2 separate regions of the Homo sapiens genome follow, and region 1 is linked to region 2. The links come from fine-mapping of genetic effects on gene expression. A gene starts in region 2. The other region holds a variant in brackets. All regions are shown on one strand. Distances are from middle to middle.

Region 1 (8,000 bases), 150 kb before region 2:
GAAAGGGATAATGAATGAATAATGGAATAGGAGAGGTAAGTAGCAGCCAGAAAACAGAGTCTTCAATGGTTTGTCAGTCAGAGTGGGCTTGCAGCTGTGATCAACAACCACCACCGGCCAGCATCTTAACACAACAGGAGTGAATTTCTCATTCATGTAGCAGGTAGTCTTCAATATCAATCCAGGAACTCAGGTTCTTCCATCTCATGGGCCCGCCATTTGCTAGGGCCCCAGAACTCTATGGTGGACCTTTGCATCAAGTGGCAGATATGGGGACAGACACGGCTTGAGAGGCAGCATGAGAGATTTTTGTGAAACATGTTGGAAATAGTGCGTGTCATTATCGTTCAGATTCCATTGACTAGAAGAAACCCACTCACATGGTCATACTTAACTGCAATGAAGGCTAGTCAGTGAACTCCAGCTGTGTGCCCAGGAGAAGAAGAAATGAGTTTTGATGAACACATAGCCAACAGCACATGCCACACAGGACATACTAAAGATCTTAGATTTTATCCTGAGCACAAAGGACAGTCACTGAAGCAATTTAAGCTAGTCAGTGGTCGAGTTTGCATTGCAAAAAATCAGTCTGGTAGAAGAAGGATGGAAGGGTCCCCAAATTCAAGTTAACAAAGTGACTCATTTATGATACAAAGAGGGCCTGAACCAAAGAAGTGGTAGTGGGAGTGGGGAAGAAGGGGCTCCTTTGAGAGAGATGGAAGAGTTTGGAGAGGGTTGCAAATGACTGGATGGGAGTGGAGAGGACAGGAATCAACAGAGAAGGTTCAACAACTACTGACTATTATTTCCTAAGAGAGGAAACCTAGGAAGAGAAGAAACTTGTGAGGGGGAAATAATGTGCTTGATGAACAAAACAACCTTATTGCTTTTTTGTTTTCCTGACTCCTTTTAGTGAGCCTGCTTTCCAAACCATTATAGGGACATATGTTCTGACATGCTCAAATAAAGTTGTAGGGCTGGCATATTTATAATCAGGATTATTTTAGGATGTTCAGGGTACATTGTTACTCTATATCTTCTGTACTACATAGTCCATGTTCATGTACTCACAATATTTGTTCATTTGACATTTATTGAAGTCTTAGTATGTGGTAGGAATTGTGTTTGGCACCTGAACTAAACTGTGGCCATCATCACCAGAAACAAATAATATCATGGCTTGGTGACTGTTGCTAAGTATTTGGGGTCTTTTGGTTGATTGGGCTATGTGATGTAGCCCGTTTTTGGTAGTTATATTGATTTTAGACTGTGAGGTCAGGAAAGGCCTAATGTATTTATTATGGGTTGAATTATGTGATGAAGCTTTAACTCTCAGTACCTGTGAATGTGACTTTATTTGGAAATAGTCTTTTAGTCTTTTCATAGTTAATCAAATTAGAGTAAGGTCATACTGGATTAGTGCAGGTCCTAATCCAATTACTGGTGTCTGTATAAGAAGAGAGAAATTTGAAGACAGACACACGGAGGAGAAGTCCATGTGAAGACAGAGGCAGAGATTGAAGTGATGTATCTACAAGCCAAGTAGCGCACCAAGGATTCCTGGCAACCACCAGAAGCTAGAAGAGGCCATAGAGGATTTCTCCCCTGGAGTCTTAAGAGAGAGCATGGCCCTGACACCTTGATTTTGGACTTTTAGCCTCTATAACTGTGAAAGAATAAATGTTGCTTTAAGCCACTCAGTTTACGGTACTTTGTAATAGCGCCCCTAGGGACCTAATTCTGTGTTTTATGTGACAGTACCAAACACAAGAAGTGTTCTGGCAGAGATAGGGTGGTGTATCTTTGCTCAGCATCTAAACTAATCACTGATTTTAAAAATATATTTATATTACAATATTATAAAACTATTTTATACTTATTCTCATATCACATTTCCACAGTAGAGAAGAAACAAAGGCTTGATGAATTAAGAAACTTGCACCAGTTGACATAGCAGTGAGTGATATTGAGGGCCTCTGGCACCTGCACACATTCCTGGAGCTAGAATGATCTCTTCTGTGTAAGAATTAGGATGTAGGCTCTTGCTGAGTCATCATGTACCACCCAGGGAAATTAGGAAGCAGTGACCCTGCTGGCTGTGGGTAGTTCCCCCAAGAGCTTCTGTGCTCAGTAGGGCTTAAAATACTTGCCTGGGTGGAAAGGCTCACCTTTCTTTCTCTCTGAGCACCGCCCAGAAGTGCAAGACAAGTGCAAATAAGGAGTTTTTCTGAGTTGTCATGTGAGCTGTGTGCAAGGAGGTTTAAGGACTGTTGCCCACTTAAAATGTTTCTTTGGGTGTTGCCTAAGTGGCCTGCCAGCTGCTGGAGGGTGCAGTGTGCTTCCCAGTGACCAGCCTTGCCAATTAACTGGGTGCCCTGTGCTCTGGTGGAACTCTCTGTCACCACATGCCATTTTGAGATGCACCCAGTGCTCTTATGGCTCAGAAGTTCTGCAAGCTGAATGTATATGATGTCTGAAATATCGCAGAGCAGTTCAATATGCCTAAGCCCACATTTTTCATGCCAAACCTGGGATTAAAGACGCCATCTTTTGGCAGAATGAAACCCGTTAATGCTGGTGGGTAGTTAGGAAGCATGCATTCTTTCCTCAAACACTTCCAAAATGGCTGCTCTGACCCTACAGAGGCTTCTGTGAATCCGTGAATCCGCCATGATTTTGACTAATGATGCTGTATTTCCTAATACTTTTGCTGTGCTTGCAGGCATCAGAACGGTTCTTTTAAGAGACTCATTATGGTACAACTCAGATTAGAATCGGACCCTCAAGGTCTTTTAAAAGACGAAGGATTTGTGAGAAACTGTGACCAGGATGACAAAGTGGCGTCTCATTTGCTTTTTATGTAAGTGAATGCTCAGGAAAGCTGAAAAGGAGGCTGTGGAAAAGCCAGACTCAGTTCCTTTGGTAAAGGCAGCAGGGGTTCTTGTTTAGACTCAACTGCCATCTTCTTGAAGGAGCTTCAGCCTAGGCGTTACGGTTGACATCTCTTAGAATGCAATTAGTGGTAGTGTAGTGACCCAATTTGACGCTCTTTGTTAAGTGAAAGCCAGCGTACACTTATGGCATTTCCAGGCCACATTGATCTACATGGATGATATACTCAGAAGCCAAAACCACTGGCTCTTTCTTAACCTCAGAATTGAGGACAGGTGGTTTCTTTCAAATGTCCTTCCTCCATGTCTTTCCAAGTTATTTATATTGTGGCAGGTAGGGGCAGTGGAGGACAAAAAAAATAAACAAAATTCTATTCAATTTTCAAGTTTCTTGCTATATAGTAACCCGTTTAAGATAAAAGCAACAACTACCACAAATACCATAGCTATGTTTTAAGTATGTTGTATATACAATCCTCTTAGTTACCTAACATTATTTACCCCATTTTACAACTAGGTAAAATGAATCTAATAGTTTACAAATAGATAAACTATTACCAGATAAATTACTGGGGTTGGACTGGAGAGCAGTGGGTAGAAAGGTATAGAAAAGATATCATAACATGCGATCGATGAGGTAACATTTAAACTGCCCAAGGAAAGGCATTCTGTATTGGTAGAGGGAAAAGATGAGAAAAGGGGTGTTTATAATGAATATGATCCTCCAGGGAATGAGGATGTAATTCACCTGGAACCCACAGTAACACGGAGTAGAAAAAATGAAGTTACAGTAAAGCCGGTGCCAGACTAATAAGGGTTTTGAGTCTCAGGCTGTAGAGTTCAAACAATTTCTTCTTTCAGTAGGGCATGAAGAGCACTCGAAGAGTTTGAACAAGTTGAGTTGGAAGGGGGATGATCAGGACTGTGCTTTTAGTAAGATTAATTTGGCAGCAGTGTATTGGATGGCGTCGGGATAGGGGACATAGGTGAGCTGGAGACAGCAAGGAGGGAACCCTTCTTTGGGCTTCTGAATTTAGCTGCCCACTTATTCTTTCAAGATTAAACAAAAGTCATCTCCTGATTCCATAGGAGAGGACCTGTGTGGGGAAAGGAAGAAGGAAAGGCACCCCAGTTTTCTGATCCCAAATAGCTGCCTACAAAATTGGTAGCTTCCTGACAGATTAGGTCATCATGAGAAAGAAAAACCAAATTTTGAGGCACTCTCTTGGTATTGCTGATTACTGCTGTTAATGAGAGTCACCAAAACAATCAAGGAGATCTTTGTTAACAAAGAAAATAATGTCAGATAATAAAGAGAGATGCTTCACTACTAATACTCTATGTGAATGATGCAGTTTATGTATCTATGCATTCTTCAAAATTAAGAATCTTTTATACCAATCTTATTTTTTGGCCTAAAAAAGAGAATAATTTATATACCCATAGGGCACATATGCATTTATATACACTATATCATGATATTTAAACAAGTGTATATATTTTAAAAAGTGACTTTTAACTACTGGGTCATTAAGATGACTGACATGAGAAAGCAGACATCACCTAAGGTTTTTATTCACATGGTCTTCAGTTGACATTTATGTGGTCCGGTATCTATTGCATTGGCTCCTTTGTTCCCCTCTGTGTTCCCACACAGAATAGCTTAAGCTGTCAGTGGCTTAAGGAATATAAGTAGCATGTGTTTTCAGGAATCAAGGATTATGCAGTACACTTTAAATTTTAATAGCCACTGATAGAGACCTCAAGAGATTCAAGCTCACTGGAGTGTTGGACTTCAGCTTGCTTGCTTTCTTTCATCTATAGAAAGATGCTCATTCTGGACTACAGAGAAGGCATTTAGGCAGAGAGGATGACTATTTGAAGTGGAATTTGTGTTGCATCACAATCCATGCCTGTTTTCTATTGGGGTGACTTGGTGTATACATTTTTTAATATTATGAA[G/A]CCACCAGTGTTAATAAAAAACAGCTGAATACATATTGGCATCCTTGGAGATCAGGCATGGGAATGCTGAGCGGGGCTGGTAGACAGTAGAACTTTAAGAAATCTCTTTCAGAGATTTTTGAAGACATTTACTTATCAGTTGTCCAGATGGCACTTGAAATGATTAATAATAAACTTTACAAGGAGGTAAAACCATGACTGGTGGAAAACACATTCTGAGTGTATATGTGATAAATACATAATATGAGAAATACGGAAAGAAGTAAAATTAAAGATTCCATATACAGTCATATTTTTAGGTTGATTATTCAGAGATTTCTTTCTTTTCTTTCTTTTTTTTTTTGGTGGGATGCCTTCTGATAACCTCATATCTCACAATCTGACACCTGAAAGTAGGACTCTTTAAAGAACAACTTGTTACCCATATAATTCACTCCTGAAAATAAAAACTGTTTTCTTAAAAATCACTTTTCCATAGTAGGATTCATACTTTGGGATCCATGTATGTGCTTCATGGGTGTGTGTCGAATCTTTGACATTGTATCAAAAAGTTCATGTTTGTGACTATGTGCATTTTCTGCAGAGAATGATCTCTATATACTCTTTTCATTTAGGCTTTCAAAGGGGTGTGTAACCCTCAACAGGCAAAGAACCACTGGGTTAATAGAAGGTAGACATATCTGTAGGATTCTGGCAGGTAGCAGATGGCACATACAAATGGGGTTAGAGTTTAATAAAGAGACTATTTTCGAGATATGGGAAGGGTTAAAGAAATCAGCAGGTGATGACTCCCCTAGGGCTAGCAACAGTGGGAGGCCAGGACCACCTGGACCTGAAGATGCCACGGAGGGAGCTAGTTCCAGAACTCAAGAGAGGGAAAGCTATCACTGTTAGAGAGGGAATACTTCAGGAGTGTAGCCTTTGGTGGAGAAATGCAGCCCTTTCTAAACTGTGCCCAGCAGGGAGGAGTTGGAGGGAAAACGTCCCACTTCATTTTCCTCTTGACCTTGGCTCTATTGTTAGTGCCTTCCAATATCTCAACCTAATCAGATGTGGAAGGCAAGAAAGCCCATTGACACAATCTTTAAAGGTCAGTCTCCCAGGCACAGGCAATAGAGAAGGGTGAAGCATAGATCTGGAAGAGCAAATAGAGAATTCCCTGCACAGGGAAACCTAGCTAGCATGTTTCATTATAATCCCAATGTCGGTTCTCCCACTGCCAAGATGAACTGTAGCCAAGTTCTCCTATAATAACTTGAGCAGTTTAGAAATAGTCACATCCTAGACTAATGCAGCTTTTTCTATTTGCATGTTTTCAGTCTTCTACTTCTAAAGGATGGTTTCTAATTGAGCCCGGTGAACATGAGAGAATCAGCAGCTTAAAATGAATTTCATGTTAAGATAATTAATATGGATGTTGGGAAAACGTTTAAGGAAAGGAGATAGCATATGAGCACATTTTGCTAAAATGTTAGAAAAGCAAGGAGGAAAAATAGTAATTTATTCCCTGCTATTGAAACAAAACTATGGTTGCACTATATTCAACAGAACTTGTAGTTTGTTTTTATTTCAGCGAAAGACTCAGATCTGTAAGCTCCGGTGTTGCATTAACTCATTGTACAGAGTTCATTATTGTAATTAGACTGCTTTTTAAGTTTATTAGTGGACTCACTAATGTACTCTTAAAAAGCTTTATTTGGAAGGAAGTCAATATCCGAAGCCAATAGAACCAAAGAGCTTGTGCCACACGCTCTCTTGCTGAAAATCATGTTATCAATTTTCATGTGACTGTTAATCAATTAGAGTGACAGAGAGATGTTTTGAAGTCAATTTTCTGTTTATTGCTAAATTAGCATTTGATTACATCTGCTTATTTTGGGTTTCAAAGAGGCTATGGTTTCCTTTGTCAAGAGACAGAATGGAGGTCAGTGATGAGAAAAATCATTTGTGCTTTTTAAAATATTTGCACATTAAAATGCAGAGTCTACAAATAGTCACAGGGCTAAGATGGAAGATGTGTGTATGTGGCTGGATTGGAACAGGTAGCATAGGAAAACTGATCTGATGATGTCGTACCTAATGCAAAGATACCTAGTCAGTGTGTAGCCCAGGAAATGAATCAAGTATTGGATGTCTATTGGTTGGTTATCATGTTGTCCTCAAAATAGACAGAAATTCAGTTGTTCAAACTGGAGAAGCATACTGTATATGTATACTGTCTTCAGGATGGGATGTGGAGATATCCTGGCTATTGTGGAACAGTGACAGTGCTATGTTGTGGCCAAATGGTTGGTTAGATATTGAGAGTGTCAATAGCATTTAAATGAAAGCTATGAAATGATACAGTGAAATGACACTGGACATGATGATGATGGTGATGATGATCATGTTGATGGTGGTGGTGGTGGTGGCAGCAGTGGCTGTGGCTACGTTTCTATCGAGTGCTTACGTATGCTTAACACTAAGCATTTTGGAGAACATACTTCTATAAGCAACTCTAGGAGTTGTTCTCCATTTGTGGCAAGTTGCTTTAGGAATTACCATCTTTCTTTAATAGAGGAAGAAATGAGGTTATAGAAAGATTAAGTAGCTTGTGCATCACTGAGGTTGAGTTTTGTCCAATTCCAGAGATTATGAATTTGACCATCATCCTAGATGTTCTCACTTGGCATCAGAGGCCTCTTTTTGAGACCTCCCTTTGCATTTTATAAGCTGACTGATCTTTGGGCTCCATTTCCTCATACATAAAGCAAGGGATTAAGCAATATGAGCTCTAAGATTCTTTGTAGCCTTAAATATTCACATTCTAGAACTATCCAGAAGGGAGCAGTTCCTCCCAAATGTAGAATATTATGCCAATATTCCAATTATAAATCAAATACTAGGGAATCTGGAATGCAGACATTATATTTCTCGTAAGAACCTCAACTCCTTGCAATTGTGTGTTTTCAATTACTCGGTGGTGTAATTGAATCACTAAAGTATAGCTTCTTAATTTATGTTGTATAGCAGGTGGACAAGTTTACTATCAGGAGTGTTGCACATTCTGACTTTTATCCCGTTAAGATATGCTTCCAATTGGAAAGCGAATAAATTACTTGGGATTTGTCGATGATTCACAGTTATAGAGGGAACATTAAAGCTTTG
Region 2 (8,000 bases):
TGGACATCACTGTGGCATTTTTTTCAAGCAAAATGAGGTTTAATTTTATAGTATTTATAGAATAGAAGTCTTTGTTATATCCTATCCTGCTACCAACTTTTGTGTTCTATGCAGTCTCTGCTTCTAACCAGAGGCCCAAAGCATGTGTTTAGAAACTGATGTGGGGTATCAGGATCAATTAGTCCCTCTAGGAATTAAAAGCAAGCAATTGAATGCCTGTTAACAATGACTAACTTGAAAAATATTAGCAATTCTAGGCAGGCCCCTTTGCTTTCTGGACGAATGCTCTAGGCAGGCAGCATTCCCAGGAATATTGGTTTCCAGCTATGTAGACTGTCCCTCAGTTATAAAGTTGCCTCCAGGGTCTTTGCTATGGCTTTGATTTGAGGATGATTATTATTCTTATGGATGAAACTTTAGTTCTTCCTAGAAAGGCTTTCAGCGATTTGCATGCTCTTTCCAGCTGCCCTCCAAACCTTGCCCAGCCTTATTTTTCTCCATCATAAAATGGGTACACAGGTCATTTTTATTGGATAGTTTGGAGGACTAAATTGACTGAGATGTGGTATATGAAGTGCTGATCTTAATGTCTAGCCCATACGTGGTCTGCTGTATATGTCTTGCTTTCCACCTTTCTTTCTTGAGAAGTTTCTGCATACATATATTCTTATGTAGTTATTGTATAAATAGTGTATATGGAAACATTCCCGAGGTTGTATTTTCCTGTTCTTTCTTGATTTAGAAAACTAAAACTACAGTAATTTTCTGCTGTGTGTAAGAGAGAAAATGTGCTTATGAACTGTATTCAGCAAACTTAAAATGTTGAAGCTCTTGGTCACCTTTTTATGCCCAGTAATGATAAACTGTCAATTTGCTTACGTTATTTGGGAATTTACTAGCAACTTGCTGCAGATATCACAGTAGACACATCTCTTATAATATGTATGATCTGAAAGAAGCAGCAGTCTGGTAGTTTTTTGTTTGTTTTATTAAAATAAAAACTTATAAACTTATAAAAACAAATGAACAAATATATTTATCCTAATAGCTCTTCTGAGTTTGCTTCTGAAATCACCTATATTCAATATAGACAACAAAACCAATTGTTTTTGCTATTCTCTGAGGTTTTTGAGTTTGAGGGTTTGAATTTGATTCTAATTTTTAGAAATGGGCAGTTGTCTGAAATATGGAGGGATGGGAAAAGCCTTTAATTTGGAGTAGGAGTGAGGAAGGAAACCCAAATGTTATACACTTCAGTCAACGTATTTGTTAGAGAATTGAATTATTCTCTTGAGGTTTTTTTTTTTCTCTTTGTTAGCAACTCGAGATAGATTCTCCTGCCTCTACTAATATTGAAACCCTGGAAAATGTTAACAGAACTACAGAGGGGAGAAATTATCAGGATGGAATGTAGGCTTTGTGTAGATATGCAACATTGGGGGCACTCAGCAGATGTTAATAAATACCTCTTTCTATTGTTGAGAAAAAATGGGTTTGATTTGGGTGTGAACTGCAGTGGTCAATGAAAGGAACTTGTATCTCACCAGGGTGTGTTTTAAGCAGTAGAAGAGGAATCTGGGTGTTGATCCAAGTGACGTTGGTTTTTCATACCAAATTATTCCCCATTTTTAAGGGTTGTCATCCCCCTAAAATTGTAAGCTCTCTTGTGTCCATGTCATATGCTTTCTTGGCAGTCCTTGTGATACATGGCTGTGCACACAGTAAGGTTTCAATAGATCCTTGTTGTCTGAAACCAGATATTTGGGAATTTTGGAGACAGAGTTGACGAAGGGGTGAAAGGAGGGCTGTGGGTAGAGAGTAAGAGAAATAGTCAAAGCAGAGAGAGAATTAAATAGAGAAATGGCCCGGGGAACCAGAAAAAAACCAAGGTTGGTGAGCAATGAACCATTTAAGTTCTCCTGAGAAAAGAAAAAAAAAAAAACTGGACTGAAGAAAAAATTTAATCTGAAGAGTTAATTAACAAAATTATAAAACCTCTAAAACATCCCTCTCATTACAGTTGTAGTTTTAAGACAAAAAAAAAATATCGTGGAAAGCACTCTAATTTGTCCTAGGAATCTATTTAATTTTGATTTGTCCAGTAATAGAAATTTGAGGGGGAAATGCAATATACTGTAGTTTATGAGTCTTTTAAATGTTGTTACTTCTGAATTCCATCCTCTTTGTGATAGTGAGAGTGAAGAAAACACAAGTGTATTTGAAATCACTTCTGGTTTCAGTGCATGTGCTGATTTGATTTTTTAGAAGTAGAATTAGATGGCAAAAAATAAGAAAACCCTAACAATACAATCTGGGCAGGTTAGAATATCAAAAATTATAACGAGCCTGTTCTAATGTAAAGAACATCTCTAAAAGATGTGAATAGGTTTTAAAAATATGATGAATATCTAGCATTGGATAAACACAAATAAAGGTATCAGTGAATATCACAATGGAAGAATCACATGATAATAATTAATAAACATTGACTCTTCTTGGCCAGGTGACCAATATTATTTCACAGTTGATCCTTGAGGGCAGAGCCAATGACCTTTGTCCTGAATTTTAATAATTTACTGAAGTTTTACATTAAATCAGAATATAATTGGGAAGAAAATTAGTGTTTCTTTGTGGGGAGTGCAGAGTAATGCCACTAATTGCTTGTATAAAAGCATTCCCGAGGTTGTATTTTCCTGTTCTTTCATTAGAAAATTAAAACTACAGTAATTTTCTGCTGTTTATAAAAGGGAAAATGTGCTGGTGAACTGTATTCAGCAAACTTAAAATGTCAAAGCTCTTGGCCACCTTTTTATGCCCAGTAATGATAAACTGTCAACTTCCTTACATTATTTGGGAATTTACTAGCAACTTGTTGCAGCTCTCACAGCACACAAATCTCTTATAATATGTATGGTCTGAAAGAAGCAGCAGTCTGCTGGTATTTTGTTTCTTTTGTTCTTTCTTTCACTTTAATATTTGAGCAATTTAATATTTAAAATATGTGTTAGGGCAAATAACCATGTTTTTCTGTTTAAGGAGATGGACAATGAAGAACAGTGTAAATTAACCTCAGTAGAATAATGCTTTACAAATTATATTTAGGTAACTGGGGGATTGTTTTCAGGTAAATTATTATCAAGTAAAAGAATTGAGCTGATTCTAAAAGTATATTGGGTTTAACATTTTATGAAAACATGTTTATTCACACAGATACATACACGTGTACATCTCCTGGGAACTTGGAAGGGTTAAGTCAGACCACTGTCATGTTACAGGAAGTGTTTTTCCACTGTGTCCAGTACCTTGAGTTTGTTATGTATTCAATATGTAGTGTCATCATAAAACAGTTGCACCTACCTGCATTAGCCCTCATTGTCTCAAGGTACAAGCTGAAAAATAATAGAAAGTAAAGCTCAGGAATTGAATATTTCTGCTAATAGTGTGTTGGTATTTTTCCCTCAGTTCACAGACATTCTTGATTTCAAAACGCAAACTACACAACCCAGGGCACTAGGGTTGGAATTCAATGTTTATTCAAAAAGGCACCCTAAGGCAGTTAGGGAGGAAACGCTACATGTATGAAAAATAGGAGCCGGGAATCAAAGCTGATCTGAGCAGAGCAGCAGCGACTGTATTTACTAACACTTGTTTTCTGGGAGCCTATGAGAGAAATGGAAATAATTAGAAGGAAGCTGAAAGGATGGGGTTTTGTGGCTTGTTCTCCTTATATGGAGCAAAGAAAACTGCAGCAACTCTTCGGGAGCTGGTATTCCCTACTGCCATGGGGGCAGCCGAATTCTGGGTGGAGGAGTTTGTTTATACCTTAACACATACAGGCTATTTTGTTGATTAAACAAGCAAAAAAAAAAAAAAAAAAAAAAAAAGCCCCGTTTGCGCTTTCAAACACTCCCTCAATGAGAAAATGTCTCATAAAAATGCATCATGTGATAAGCTCTTGCTTTAGTCCCAAACTGAGCTTGAGTCCACTTGGAGATCTTAGAATTAAAGAGTTCTTAGGGAATACACGTTTTAGCTAAGAATATAGTTACTCTGTCATGAAACAGGGAGCTTTGCCACTTGCTTGTTTTGGAAGGAAAATAAATTAAAAAAAGATTGCAGGGGATTTTGGTTATTATATGGCCAGGGCTCCGTTTAGAGTCTGTGGCATTCAAAGCTGGCTTTAATCACAGCATGATGCTTGAAGCCTCCAAAAGTCTAAGTGTTTCCTTTCTTTCTTTCTTTTCTTTTTCTTTCTTTTTTTTTTTTTTTAAAGCGTTACTTCACTGAAGCAGAGGGCTGCCTTTGAGTGACGTCACGAGTTAGAGCAGCAAGCTGCACAGGGGAAGGGAGGCTGGGTGAGTGACAGCCCAGCCTACTTTTTAATAGCTTTGTCATGTGACTGGGGACTGTAGTAAGACAGGTGCCTTCAGTTCACTCTCAGTAAGGGGCTGGTTGCCTGCATGAGTGTGTGCTCTGTGTCACTGTGGATTGGAGTTGAAAAAGCTTGACTGGCGTCATTCAGGAGCTGGATGGCGTGGGACATGTGCAACCAGGACTCTGAGTCTGTATGGAGTGACATCGAGGTGAGCTGGGGCAGGGCTCGGCGCTGCAGCCACAACTGACGCTTCCCTCAGATGCTATTATTCCTGTAAGGGGGGATGGGCTTGGGCAAAGAGAGGAGCCAGGAAAGTAGTCCAGGCAGGAGCTTTTAGAAGAATCTCAATCTTATCTTAACTCCAATAAGTTTGCTATTTTAAGGTGGCTCTGAGATGGCTTGAGCAAATCAAAGCTTAGCTGCTGTCATCAGTATCTGTTGCAGTTAGAAACTCTTTCCATGTGACTTTGGCACTGTTTCTACTCATATGCAATATTTATGCTCTAAGATATTGATATGAATCAGAAGCTGAAGTCTTTCCAGTGGTGTTTAGTGGCCTGGTTGGAAAAATGCCATTTCTATTTATAATAAGACGAAGATAAAAATATTAAAATGGATGTGTTCAAATATAGTCCGTTTTGACTCTAGTCCGGATTTTTCCCCCCTCTCTCTCTGTTCATCAGACAGAGAACTTACAAAATCCTAAATAATCCTGCTGGGCTATTTTAGATTGCTTTTCCCACAGAACACAAAACAACGATGCTGCTTCCTTTAAAACTCCTATACGTGGTTGAAAGATTTGGCCAGCGAATAAAAAGAAACGCCTGGCAGTGCAAGGTTTTCCGTTCGCGTCGGTGGCAGGGAAGCCAATGGTTAAATCTTCCTGTACCACGGAGAGCTGCCTGAAGCTGAGAGAGAATAGAGTTTATGCAGGACTGTGTGTGGAGCTGCTCGCTGCTAGTGTAAAAATAGACAGCAATACATCAATTCCACAGTCTCTGCTGGCTACAATTCATACAGGGGGGAAAATAACGCAAGCAGTTTCCTCGTAATCTCTGGAGTCTAGTGGGGGGACGGAGGACCTCGGCGTGTTTGCATTCAGCACAATGGAATGCTCTCGGAAGGAAAGTTTGGGCAACTTGGGAAACAAGCAAAACTTTCTGTGGACTCTGGTGAGATGGACTCGAATTGAATTGCATGGAGGATCCCAGCTGCTAACAATGAATCTGGCAAAAGACTGCGAGTGTTTCCTCTGGGTAGCTGGGGGCACGTAGGGTAAGGGGGAGGATCAAGCCCACACGTGATTTGATTAAATAAGATGTCCATGTGGTGCAGCGATACACATCTAAAGTGAAAATAATTTGGCCAAGGCCGTCTGTGAATGCATTTTTCCTATCTAGCGAGGCATGCCCGGGATTCTTAACTCTTTGCTGGGTTTGCAAATGTTGGCTCCATTTGCCCTCCCTTGCCTTGGTAGATCGTATTTGTGGATTGTAATTGTTATCTTGTTCTGATTTCTTGGTAAGGCGGAATAGATATGGATAATTCATATGCCCTGTAGCCATTATGAGTCAGGGTTATAAGTGGCTTCAAAGTCCTAATTGCCTTTGAGTAGCCGGAGTGTCCTGTGGGTGGTTGTCTGGCTGGCACTGTGGGTCTCAGCTGCTGTAGTTTCATTTTTCCATCATGTATTATTCCTGATGCTGTTAGGAGTTGATTGAGGAACTAGATCATATGGAAATAAGGAAGATTTATTTTAATCATTGGAATTCCTGCAGTCATTTTCAAATAAACATCAGAAGCATTTAGAATAGTGGCCTTTAAATTTTTTTCTTAAGGAGGAAAGGTCTTGGCTACTTGTCCAGCCATGGATAGAGTCGCCAGTCGGCTGAGATTGGCCAGTCACTTCTCTGTTGCACTATAGGCAGCTAGCTGCTAGAAGCTTTGCCTACATGGCAGCGGCTCTGGGAATCACCTCCGCCTGTATAAAATATTACGAGCAGCAGGTAGCGTTGGCAGTTTTCATTTTTTGAATCATTAATGTTTGCTGTCATCCTAAAACGTATTATGCCCTTTTGCACATAATGACAGGGTAGTACATTGGTTAATATAGGCCTATATCACTATAGCTACTTGGAGTGCCCCGTGTTTCACAGTTTAATGAAGGTGATATACAGTAAGGTTACTAAGATTGATAGAGACAATTCACATGACATACACCCCACTAAGACTGTCATTCTTTACTGCCCCTCTCTCCACCCCCTTTCCCCTGTCTTAACTAATTTTTTTAAGAACCCAGTTTCTTTTTTCATTAATATAATTAATGTGGCCAAGTCCACTCCTTCTTCTCTCTCTCTCTTTAAAATTTACCATCAATGGCACAAAAACCTCCAAAAGGTTAATGGAGAATTATACTTAATTATAATGATTCATTATCATCAGTGCAGTTAAGCTAATTTATTGTCTGCTCCTTAACTAAGAGAAAAGTCTGTTGGGGTGAAATAACATACAATAATTAGCCTTTTGTGTTTAGTGACTGCTTTATCCTCTTAAATCTTATTATAAAATTGAGGCTACAGTTGTGAAATAGCTGTCATAGTTGCAAAGAGGCAGTAGAATGTGTCTGTGTAATTGCAATAAAGCACACCTGTTACAGAGGTATAGGGAAACAGTAAATATCAGCATGTCAGATGAGGACAGTTACAGGGCTTGGACTGTTAAGTCTGGCATTGTCCAAAGGCCAAATATAAATTAATAACAGGAACACTTGCTACCACTAATGTGTTTTAGATTAGCAGGATAATGCCACATTCAGAAGCACAGATTTTATTAGCATGTCAACATTGGCAAGAACACATGCACTTTTCTCAACCATAACATAAAAGCAAAATGAGAGAGAGAGAGAGAGCGCACGAGCGAACAAGTGAGAGGAAGGAAAGGAATATGTAAATGACAAGATAGCACCAATACAACAAATTGACCTGGTCTTTTCAATGGTTTTCAAAAGTTATTTAAAAATACATATTTATGGAAGGTTAAAGGGTTATGAGCAAGTCATGCCAAAGAGGGCAGTTAAAGAGAGGGACAGGAAGAAGTTGTCCACAAATCAGTATGCTACTTTAGCATTCCAAAACATGGTTGGTTCCTAAGTTTCACAACAGGAACTTAAGCCATATGTAGACAGCCTACATTTTCTTGATTATTTTTACTTTTGTGTTGCTATTTTTGTTGTTCATGTTTTTTTTTTTTTTTTTTAAAGACTATGCCCCTATAAAATCCTAGTGTATCTTGCACCGTTGAAAAAGTTCTCCCCCATCTCTGAATTGGTGACATTGAGGAAAAGTTAAGATAGTGTGTTTGGGCTTGGAGGATCAGCTGTGTGGGCAAGAATGGAGTCTGGGCAGTGTTACATCCACAACCAAATATGAGCATTGTACCAGAACGAGATCTCTTCAGCCCAGCCTCCAGTTACTTATATGCCTTGTCAAGTATACTGATCTGTAATTTTGGGCTAACTCAGATAATAAAAGGAAAGACCAATAAAATGATAAGGAAAGAGTTTTGATGGTGAGGAGGGCCCTTTCTTTGCATTCCCTTGTCCCTGCTGCCAGGGATCTCACTGGGG

Alleles and levels. Positions count from the first base shown, and alleles are read on the strand shown. Sizes are in standard deviations (SD) of each study's normalised expression.
With allele G in place of A in region 1, the expression in fibroblasts of the gene that starts at base 4,440 in region 2 is lower (small effect, 0.14 SD a copy in GTEx).

Evidence for each region. PIP is the estimated chance that this variant, and not a neighbour inherited with it, causes the effect.
Region 1: its variant is fine-mapped to the expression of PPARGC1A in fibroblasts (GTEx, PIP 0.96).

What each region holds. Positions count from the first base shown.
Region 1 is chr4:24,039,109-24,047,108 of GRCh38, reverse strand. It overlaps a transcript of PPARGC1A not described here. Among named protein-coding and RNA genes, the nearest start is that of PPARGC1A, 150 kb to the right of the region's middle. The variant G/A (reference allele first, on the strand shown) is at 4,854.
Region 2 is chr4:23,886,487-23,894,486 of GRCh38, reverse strand. PPARGC1A (PPARG coactivator 1 alpha) reads left to right here and starts at 4,440. Exons shown (of 13, transcript NM_013261.5): 1 at 4,440-4,583. The coding sequence starts at 4,530. RefSeq lists an enhancer at 7,765-8,000.